Regions from separate parts of the Homo sapiens genome. Here region 2 is linked to region 1. The links come from fine-mapping of genetic effects on gene expression. A gene starts in region 1. The other region holds a variant in brackets. All regions are shown on one strand. Distances are between the middles of the regions. Region 1 holds the start of ABHD12 (abhydrolase domain containing 12, lysophospholipase). Region 2 overlaps ABHD12 (abhydrolase domain containing 12, lysophospholipase).

Region 1 (5,380 bases):
TCCCAGCTACTCAGGAGGCTGGGGCAGGAGAATTGCTTGAACCTGGGAGGTGGAGGTTGCAGTGAGCCGAGATTGCCACTGCACTCCAGCCTGGGCGACAAAGCGAGACTCCTTCTCAAAAAAAAAAAAAAAAAAAAATCCAATCCTTCATCCTACAAAAAAAAAGAGAAGAGGGATGGATGATTCAAAATTGGCTAAACACTGAAAACTTTTAAGTGATGGACACATGAAGAAGGCTCATTAGATTGTCTTCTCTACTTCCACGTATGTCGACAATAAAGAGTTTAAAAAATGTGCGGAAGGATCCAAAGAAGGATCATAAAAGACACAAACGAGCCGGCTCTGTGGCGCAATGGATATCTGTTCTATGGATATTTGTTCATTCAACAAGTATTTTCTGCTACCTACTACGTGCCAGGTACTGGAGATACTTAAGTGGAGAAAACAAAGCTCCTGTTCTCATGGCGCTTCCATTCTGGTTGCGGGGGAGGCACACGAGCAAAAATTACAATCTCGAGTGATAACAAGGTCGACAGGAGTGGGCTGGTCTAAGAAGGCCTCAGTGAGGAGGAGGTGATGGTGGCGCAGAGCCTGAGCGAGGAAGAGAAGAAAGCTCAAGGATGTCTGAGACAGCCAGCTGGGAAGGAAGACAACCTAACAAATTTGGTCTTCTTTCCCTTTGTTTTGCTTTTTACCCCTAACAGCCTTTTGCTTATCCAAAGGATATGGACACCACTGGAATGTCTCTCTTTGTCCTGACACGAAAATAAAAATTAATCGGGTAATTTTAATACAGTACATTCTTCAAGAAGGTGCCAGGTCGCCGCTGTTTCCCCAAACGTTGTGTAAAACAATTTGATTTTTTCTTTTTTTTTTTTTTTTTTGAGACGGAGTTCCGTTCTTGTTGTCCAGGCTGGAGTGCACTGGTGCGATCTCGGTTCGGCGAGATCTTGGCTCACCGCAACCTCCGCCTCCCAGATTCAAGCGATTCTCCCGCCTCAGCCTCCCGAGTAGCTGGGATTACAGGCATATGCGCCACCACGCCCGGCTAATTTTGTATTTTTAGTACAGACGGGGTTTCTCCATGTTGGTCAAGCTGGTCTCGAACTCCTGACCTCTGATAATCTGCCCGCCTCGGTCTCCCAGAGTGCTGGCATTACAGGCGTGAGCCACCGCGCCCGGCAATTTGATTTTTTCGAAGGAAGAATTTTCCAATTTATCTAAGCGTTATGCCATGTCTGTTAATAAAATTGTATTAAAGTTAAATCATGAGTTTTTAATGCAGATAAATCTTTCCATAGCAAAGAGAACAGATTAGTTTCACAAAAGATATTGATCAGATGCTACATAATTTTACACATAAAGACACAAAACTATCAGTCTCCGCCCTTCTGTCAAACCATCGACTTAGAAGTGTCTATAGTTTAATTTCATGATTTTTTTAAGCAATGAAGTTGAAATTCTACTTTTCCTTAGGAGCGATACGCATATTTTACACTCAAGTGGCCAGCGTCAACTAAGGGCATTCCAGATGGTCAAAAAAGAAGTGCCTCTGCTACAACGCCTGAGATCATCATATAGTAACTTCTTCAAACCACCACGAAGTAGCAAGGCTTCAAAGCTGTCAGGAATGCTACGTTCTACAACAGCCAGATAATTAGGAAACCAGCAGATGGGAGGAGAAATCTGTCCCTATGAAACACGTTCCCATCTCAGTTTTGAAAGTGGCTTTATATAAACGCATTCATCTTCTACCCAATAACCCAAAGGTTATTGAACGCCAATAACCAAACGACTCAGGACTGCGAGATGATTCCCAAGGAGGCGAACTTGTGCGGACAGATTTCAAGTACCACGAACCATCACCAGCAGAGCGAAGGGCAGGTTTCCCTCCGACGGCTGCGATGCTCCGAGTCCCTCCTTCCCCTAGCACCCCGCCGCCCACTGAGCCCTTCCCCAAAGGTCCCCGAGTTCTGAGCGACGCACGCCCCCGACCCTAGTTACCGGGGAGAGCCGCCGAGGGCCCAAGGCGCCAGTAAGGCTCCGCGCACGCAGCCCAGCCCGAGGGGCGCCCGCCCGGGCGCTCGGTGTGGGGCCTGATGCAGAGCAGGAGGAGGAGGTCCGAGTGGGCCCCAGCGCTCTCAGGGTCTGGCGCCGGCCCCTCTGCCTCCCGCCTCTGCTGTGCCTGGCGTCCAGGGATCTTCCAAGGACTCCCCACCCCCTACCCTGCTCTCCCACGCGGGGTCATGACTTCGGGCGGCGCCAAGCCCCCAGCGTAAGGGTCCCCCCGGCTTCCCCGGGAAAGGGTCGGGGTGCAAGGCTAGGCCAGGAGTGCCTGGCGAGAGGGCCGGAGCAGGACACAGGGGGTCAGCGGCAGGGCAGGGCGCTCCCGCCGCGGTGCCTGGGGAAGGGAGCGGGGGTGGGGCTGCCGCGGGCCAAATGCGGGACACAGGCGCGGACGGGGGCGGCCGCGGATCGGGCGGACGGCCACTCTGGGAGGGGCTGGGAGGTACCGCGGCCCCCTGCGGGACGCACCTGCGCAAAGTGAGGGACCGGCCCCCCCCCCCCCCCCGCTCCGCGCGAAGCCTCACCTGCCCAGCGCCCGCTTCATTCCCGCGTCGGCTGCGCAGCGCGGCTCAGCCGCCGCCGGGCCCGTCAGGCGTAGGTTCTGCTTCAGGCGGCAGTCGGCGTCCAGCGCCGCGGCGGCCGAGCCGGAGGAGGACGAGCCCGCGGCGGCGCAGCGCTCATGCTCCAAGGCGACGGGCTCGGTCCGCTTCCTCATCCCGCGGCCGACAGGGCCAGCCGCCGACGGCGCCCGCTGGCCTGCGCCGCAGTGCCGCCGCTCACAGCCGCCGCCACCCAGAGCCCGGAGCCCGGAACCCGCCGCTCCTCACATCCCAGCCCAGGCCGCTGCGCCGGCTACGAACCAGCGGCGGGGGCCCGCCAGCCAGGCCGGCCAATCAGCGCCGGGCTCCCGCCGGCTCTGCCCTACCCCCCTCCCCCGGCCCCGCCCCGGCCACCTCCTCTCTAGTTCCAAGGAGCGCGCGCCCAGCATCCCTGGCGCCACCCGCAGCCATTTTGTGGGAGGGTGGGCGAAGCTGCAGCGGCGCGTCATCTGCAGGGCAGGGCTCTGGGCTCCATCCGCAGGCTGCAGCTGTGCTCGCCCGGGCGCTCGGTGTGAGGAGCACCCGCTCCCGGTCGTGCCCGAAAGGGGTGGCCCAGCGAGGCAGAGCCGCAGCGCTGGGCTCCTCGTGCTTCTGTGAACGGAAAACCAGAGGTAGCAAATAGCAGTTCCGTTCTCGTGATTCTTAATTCTTTTTCCACAAGGACATTACCTTTAAAAGTATGCTTTCCGGTCGTCAGTTTTTAATTTGAAGTAAATGTATATACTCAGTGTTTACTTTTGGGCCGAACATCAGGAAATGAACTGCTTGAAAAATTTACTTTTTAAAAACCTGTGTTAGATTTTAGATTTTTATAAAGCAATTAAGACTACCTGATGGGAGGAAAATCCATTTCAAAGATAAATTCGCCCTTATGAAACCCAAATTTAGTACTAATTCAACCCATCCTAGAAAGAGAAAAGGAAAGAATAAAGGGCTGTTTCACAAATTTAGTTTTATAACTTTGGCTTTCTTCAATATGGCATTAGTTTTACAGATGATCTATAACAAAGAGAGATATTTGCTTATTCCAAAGTAACGTTAGAAATTTCAGCATTTGTCACTTTGAAAACTATTGGCAATTGATAAAGGTCAATTGGAAATGCGTTTAGAAATTCAACAGCTTTTTATATTAGTTTTTTCTTTTTTTTTTTTTTTTTTTTTGAGACGGAGTCTCGCTCTCGCCCAGGCTGGAGTGCAGTGGCGCGATCTCGGCTCACTGCAAACTCCGCCTCCCAGGTTCACGCCAGTCTCCTGCCTCAGCCTCCCAAGTAGCTGGGACTACAGGCGCCGGCTACCATGCCCGGCTAATTTTTTTGTATTTTTAGTAGAGACAGGGTTTCACTGTGTAGCCAGGATGGTCTCGATCTCTCGATCCCGTGATCCGCCCGCCTCGGCCTCCCAAAGTGCTGGGATTACAGGCATGAGCCACCGCGCCCGGCTGCTTTTTAAATTAGTTTTGTAATGATACTTTGAAATTGCAAAATAATTTATTGACCATATTACTAAGTGTTACAGCCTGCATTCATAATTGTGTCAATATCTCCAGATATACTTTTTAAAAACATTATGGGCCGAGCTCAGTGGCTCATGCCTGTAATCTCAGCACTTTGGGAGGCGGAGGTGGGTGGATCATTTAAGCACAGGAGATGGAGGCCAGATCAGCCTGGCCAGCATGGTGAAACTCCGTCTCTACTAAAAATACAAAAATTAGCCGGGTGTGGTGGCACAAGCCTGGGTGACAGAGCAAGACTCTGTTTAAAAAAAAAAAAAAAAAAAAGGCTGGGCGAGGTGTCTCACGCCTGTGAGCCCAGCACTTTGGGAGGCCGAGGCGGGCGGATCACGAGGTCAGGAGATTGAGGCTATCCTGGCCAATGTAGTGAAACCCCGTCTCTACTAAAAACACAAAAATTAGCCAGGTATGGTGGCACAACCCTATAATCCCAGCTAATTGGGAGGCTGAGGCAGGAGAATCGCTTGAACTTGGGAGGCGGAGGTTGCAGTGAGCTGAGATCACACCATTGCACCCCAGTCTTGGGGACAAAAGCAAACTTCTGTCTCAAAAAAAAAAAAAAAAATTAGCTGGGCATGGTGGCGCGTGCCTGTATTCCCAGCTACTTGGGAAGCTGAGGCAGGAGAATCGCTTGAACCAGGGAGTCGGAGGTTGTGGTGAGCCGAAATTGTGCCACTGCACTCCAGCCTGGCGACAGAGGGAGACTCCTCTCAAAAACAAACAAACAAAAAAATTAGCTGGGTGTGGTGGCGCACGCCTGTAATCCCATCTACTTGGGAGGCTGAGGCAGGAGAATTGCTTGAACCCGGGATGCTGGGATTCGGAGGTTGCAGTGAGCCGAGATTGCACCACTGCACTCTAGCCTGGGTGACAGAGCAGGACTCCATCTCAAAATAAACAAACAAACATACTATGGAATGTAAATTATAAATTCTTTATAGTGATGTAGTAACACATCCTGGAGAGATTGGAAATCTAGGAAATAACTAAAACGTAAAAAAAAAAAAAGAGGTTTTGACTCTATCGCTCACTTCAATTAAAAAAACAACAACAACAAAAAAAAAACAGCCAGGCGCGGTGGCTCATGCCTGTAATCCCAGCACATTGGGAGGCCGAGGCGGGCGGATCACAAGGTCAGGAGATCATGACCATCCTGGCTAACACGGTTTCACACCCCGTCTCTCTAATAACAATATAAAAAATT
Region 2 (5,380 bases), 59 kb before region 1:
GGGAGCTCCTCATACAGGCCCCCGCACCATGGGCAAACAAGGCCCACAGGGCTGCTGGGACTGAGGCCTCTGGCTGCTCCTGCTTCCCCCAGTTTTCACTGTCCACCCCCCAGTTTTCATTGTCCACCCTCCAGTCACGTCATCATGTACCAGCAACCACAAACATCAACGGGCAGGATGGAGAATGGATCCTGCACACATGGGTGCCGTGGAGGGTGAAGAAGTGAGAATGTGAGTGAATGGAAAACGACCTGCTCTGTCATACTTCTTTTAGCTCACCTGCAAAATATTTGTTGCGGGAAAGGCTGAAACTTACTGAGCTGTGATGGTCTTTGAGTGCTGAGGGTCTGAACAGGGGGCTAAGTCTCATTCCAATCACTGTGAGTAACAGAGCAGCCTTGATACCGGCAGCCATAAGAGGTGTGGTGTCAAGGGAAAGCCTGGGTTGGTTATTTGGGTTTTATCAAATTCCAATTACCTGATGCAGGCTTACAGGACCTTCCGTATGAAAAAAGGGGATAAGAAAAGAAAGGTAACAGGAGTCAACAGGGACTGCTCAGGGGAAGGAAAAAGAGGAAGCTGGCCCTTTGCTTTAAAAACAAATGCATGGAATTGTGTTGAGGGAGGAGCCAAGATGGCCAAATAGGAACAGCTCCAGTCTACAGCTCCCAGCGTGAGCGACACAGAAGACGGGTGATTTCTGCATTTCCATCTGAGGTACCAGGTTCATCTCACTAGGGAGTGCCAGACAGTGGGCGCAGGTCAGTGGGTACGCGCACCGTGCGCAAGCCAAAGCAGGGCAAGGCATTGCCTCACTCGGGAAGCGCAAGGGGTCAGGGAGTTCCCTTTCCTAGTCAAAGAAAGTGGTGACAGACGGCACCTGGAAAATCGGGTCACTCCCACCCGAATACTGTGCTTTTCCGACTGGCTTAAAAAACGGCACAACAGGAGATTATATCCCGCACATGGCTCGGAGGGTCCTACGCCCACGGAGTCTCGCTGATTGCTAGCACAGCAGTCTGAGATCAAACTGCAAGGCAGCAGCGAGGCTTGGGGAGGGGCGCCCGCCATTGCCCAGGCTTGCTTAGGTAAACAAAGCAGCCAGGAAGCTCAAACTGGGTGGAGCCCACCACAGCTCAAGGAGGTCTGCCTGCCTCTGTAGGCTCCACCTCTGGGGGCAGGGCACAGACAAAGAAAAAGACAGCAGTAACCTCTGCAGACTTAAATGTCCCTGTCTGACAGCTCTGAAGAGAGCGGTGGTTCTCCCAGCACGCACCTGGAGATCTGAGAACGGGCAGAATGCCTCCTCAAGCGGGTCCCTGACCCCTGACCCCCGAGCAGCCTAACTGGGAGGCAACCCCCAGCAAGGGCAGACTGACACCTCACACGGCTGGGTACTCCAACAGACCTGCAGCTGAGGGTCCTGTCTGTTAGAAGGAAAACTAACAAACAGAAAGGACATCCACACCAAAAACCCATCTGTACATCACCATCATCAAAGACCAAAAGTAGATAAAACCACAAAGATGGGGAAAAAAAAGAGCAGAAAAACTGGAAACTCTATAAAGCAGAGCGCCTCTCCTCCTCCAAAGGAACGCAGTTCCTCACCAGCAACGGAACAAAGCTGGACGGAGAATGACTTTGACTAGCTGAGAGAAGAAGGCTTCAGACGATCAAATTACTCCAAGCTACGGGAGGACATTCAAACCAAAGGCAAAGAAGTTGAAAACTTGGAAAAAAATTTAGAAGAATGTATAACTAGAATAACCAATACAGAGAAGTGCTTAAAGGAGCTGATGGAGCTGAAAACCAAGGCTCGAGAACTACGTGAAGAATGCAGAAACCTCAGGAGCCAATGCGATCAACTGGAAGAAAGGGTATCAGTGATGGAAGATGAAATGAAGCAAGAAGGGAAGTTTAGAGAAAAAAGAATAAAAAGAAACGAGTAAAGCCTCCAAGAAATATGGGACTATGTGAAAAGACCAAATCTACGTCTGATTGGTGTACCTGAAAGTGACGGGGAGAATGGAACCAAGTTGGAAAACACTCTGCAGGATATTACCCAGGAGAACTTCCCCAATCTAGCAAGGCAGGCCAACATTCAGATTCAGGAAATACAGAGAACGCCACAAAGATACTCCTCGAGAAGAGCAACACCAAGACACATAATTGTCAGATTCACGAAAGTTGAAATGAAGGAAAAAATGTTAAGGGCAGCAAGAGAGAAAGGTCAGGTTACCCTCAAAGGGAAGCCCATCAGACTAAAAGCAGA[C/T]CTCTCGGCAGAAACTCTACAAGCCAGAAGAGAGTGGGGGCCAATATTCAACATTCTTAAAGAAAAGAATTTTCAACCCAGAATTTCACATCCAGCCAAACTAAGCTTCATAAGTGAAGGAAAAATAAAATACTTTACAGACAAGCAAATGCTGAGAGATTGTGTCACCACCAGGCCTGCCCTAAAAGACCTCCTGAAGGATGCGCTAAACATGGAAAGGAAAAACCGGTACCAGCCACTGCAAAATCATGCCAAAATGTAAAGACCATCGAGACTAGGAAGAAACTGCATCAACTAATGAGCAAAATAACCAGCTAACATCATAATGACAGGATCAAATTCACATATAACAATATTAACTTTGAATGTAAATGGACTAAATGCTCCAATTAAAAGACACAGACTGGCAAATTGGATAAAGAGTCAAGACCCATCAGTGTGCTGTATTCAGGAAACCCATCTCACGTGCAGAGACACACATAGGTTCAAAATAAAAGGATGGAGGAAGATCTACCAAGCAAATGGAAAACAAAAAAAGGCAGGGGTTGCAATCCTAGTCTCTGATAAAACAGACTTTAAACCAACAAAGATCAAAAGAGACAAAGAAGGCCATTACTTAATGGTAAAGGGATCAATTCAACAAGAAGAGCTAACTATCCTAAATATATATGCACCCAATACAGGAGCACCCAGATTCATAAAGCAAGTCCTGAGTGACCTACAAAGAGACTTAGACTCCCACACATTAATAATGGGAGACTTTAACAACCCACTGTCAACATTAGACAGATCAACGAGACAGAAAGTCAACAAGGATACCCAGGAATTGAACTCAGCTCTGCACCAAGAAGACCTAATAGACATCTACAGAACTCTCCACCCCAAATCAACAGAATATACATTTTTTTCAGCACCACACCACACCTATTCCAAAATTGACCACATCCTTGGAAGTAAAGCTCTCCTCAGCAAATGTAAAAGAACAGAAATTATAATAAACTATCTCTCAGACCACAGTGCAATCAAACTAGAACTCAGGATTAAGAAACTCACTCAAAACAGCTCAACTACATGGAAACTGAACAACCTGCTCCTGAATGACTACTGGGTACATAACAAAATGAAGGCAGAAATAAAGATGTTCTTTGAAACCAACGAGAACAAAGACACAACATACCAGAATCTCTGGGACACATTCAAAGCAGTGTGTAGAGGGAAATTTATAGCACTAAATACCCACAAGAGAAAGCAGGAAAGATCCAAAATTGACACCCTAACATCACAATTAAAAGAACTAGAAAAGCAAGAGCAAACACATTCAAAAGCTAGCAGAAGGCAAGAAATAACTAAAATCAGAGCAGAACTGCAGGAAATAGAGACACAAACAACCCTTCAAAAAATTAATGAATCCAGGAGCTGGTTTTTCGAAAGGATCAACAAAATTGATAGACCACTAGCAAGACTAATAAAGAAGAAAAGAGAGAAGAATCAAATAGACGCAATAAAAAACGATAAAGGGGATATCACCACTGATCCCACAGAAATACAAACTACCATCAGAGAACATTACAAACACCTCTATGAAAATAAACTAGAAAATCTAGAAGAAATGGATATATTCCTCGACACATACACCCTCCGAAGACTAAACCAGGAAGAAATTCAATCTCTGAATAGACCAATAACAGGAGCTGAAATTGTGGCAATAATCAATAGCTTACCAACCTAACAGAGTCCAGGACCAGATGGATTCACAGCTGAATTCTACCAGAGGTACAAGGAGGAACTGGTACCATTCCTTCTGAAACTATTCCAATCAACAGAAAAAGAGGGAATCCTCCCTAACTCATTTTATGAGGCCAGCATCATCCTGATACCAAAGCCGGGCAGAGACACAACCAAAAAAGAGAATTTTAGACCAATATCCTTGATGAACATTGATGCAAAAATCCTCAATAAAATACTGGCAAACCTAATCCAGCAGCACATCAAAAAGCATATCCACCATGATCAAGTGGGTTTCATCCCTGGGATGCAAGGTTGGTTCAATATACGCAAATCAATAAATGTAATCCAGCATATAAACAGAACCAAAGACAAAAACCACATGATTATCTCAATAGATGCAGAAAAGGCCTCTGACAAAATTCAACAACCCTTCATGCTAAAAACTCTCAATAAATTCGGTATTGATGGGACACATCTCAAAATAATAAGAGCTATCTATGACAAACCCACAGCCAATATCATACTGAATGGGCAAAAACTGGAAGCATTCCCTTTGAAAACTGGCAGAAGACAGGGATGCCCTCTCTCACCACTCATATTCAACACAGTGTTGGAAGTGCTGGCCGGGGCAATTAGGCAGGAGAAGGAAATAAAGGGTATTCAATTAGGAAAAGAGGAAGTCAAATTGTCCCTGTTTGCAGATGACATGATGGTATATCTAGAAAACCCCATTGTCTCAGCCCAAAATCTCCTTAAGCTGATAAGCAACTTCAGCAAAGTCTCAGGATACAAAATCAATGTACAAAAATCACAAGCATTCTTATACACCAACAACAGACAGAGAGCCAAATCATGAGTGAACTCCCATTCACAATTGCTTCAAAGAGAATAAAATACTTAGGAATCCAACTTACAAGGGATGTGAAGGACCTCTTCAAGGAGAACTACAAACCACTACTCAAGGAAATAAAAGAGGATACAAACAAATGGAAGAACATTCCATGCTCATGGGTAGGAAGAATCAATATCGTGAAAATGGCCATACTGCCCAAGGTAATTTACAGATTCAATGCCATCCCCATCAAGCTACCAATGACTTTCTTCACAGAATTGGAAAAAACTACTTTAAAGTTCATACGGAACCAAAAAAGAGCCTGCATCGCCAAGTCAATCCTAAGCCAAAAGAACAAAGCTGGAGGCATCACACTACCTGGTTTCAAACTATACTACAAGGCTACAGTAACCAAAACAGCATGGTACTGGTACCAAAACAGAGATATAGATCAATGGAACAGAACAGAGCCCTCAGAAATAACACCGCATATCTGCAACTATCTGATCTTTGACAAACCTGAGAAAAACAAGCAATGGGGAAAGGAT

The links. PIP is the estimated chance that this variant, and not a neighbour inherited with it, causes the effect.
Region 2: its variant is fine-mapped to the expression of ABHD12 in whole blood (TOPMed, PIP above 0.99).

Annotation. Positions count from the first base shown.
Region 1 is chr20:25,387,922-25,393,301 of GRCh38, forward strand. It overlaps ABHD12 (abhydrolase domain containing 12, lysophospholipase), which reads right to left and starts at 2,914. Exons shown (of 13, transcript NM_001042472.3): 1 at 2,592-2,914. The coding sequence starts at 2,782. RefSeq lists silencers at 2,004-2,163, 2,334-2,493, 2,534-2,583, 2,624-3,043.
Region 2 is chr20:25,329,331-25,334,710 of GRCh38, forward strand. The region is part of intron 2 of ABHD12 (abhydrolase domain containing 12, lysophospholipase); the gene reads right to left. Among named protein-coding and RNA genes, the nearest start is that of ABHD12, 59 kb to the right of the region's middle. RefSeq lists an enhancer at 940-1,461. The variant C/T (reference allele first, on the strand shown) is at 2,273.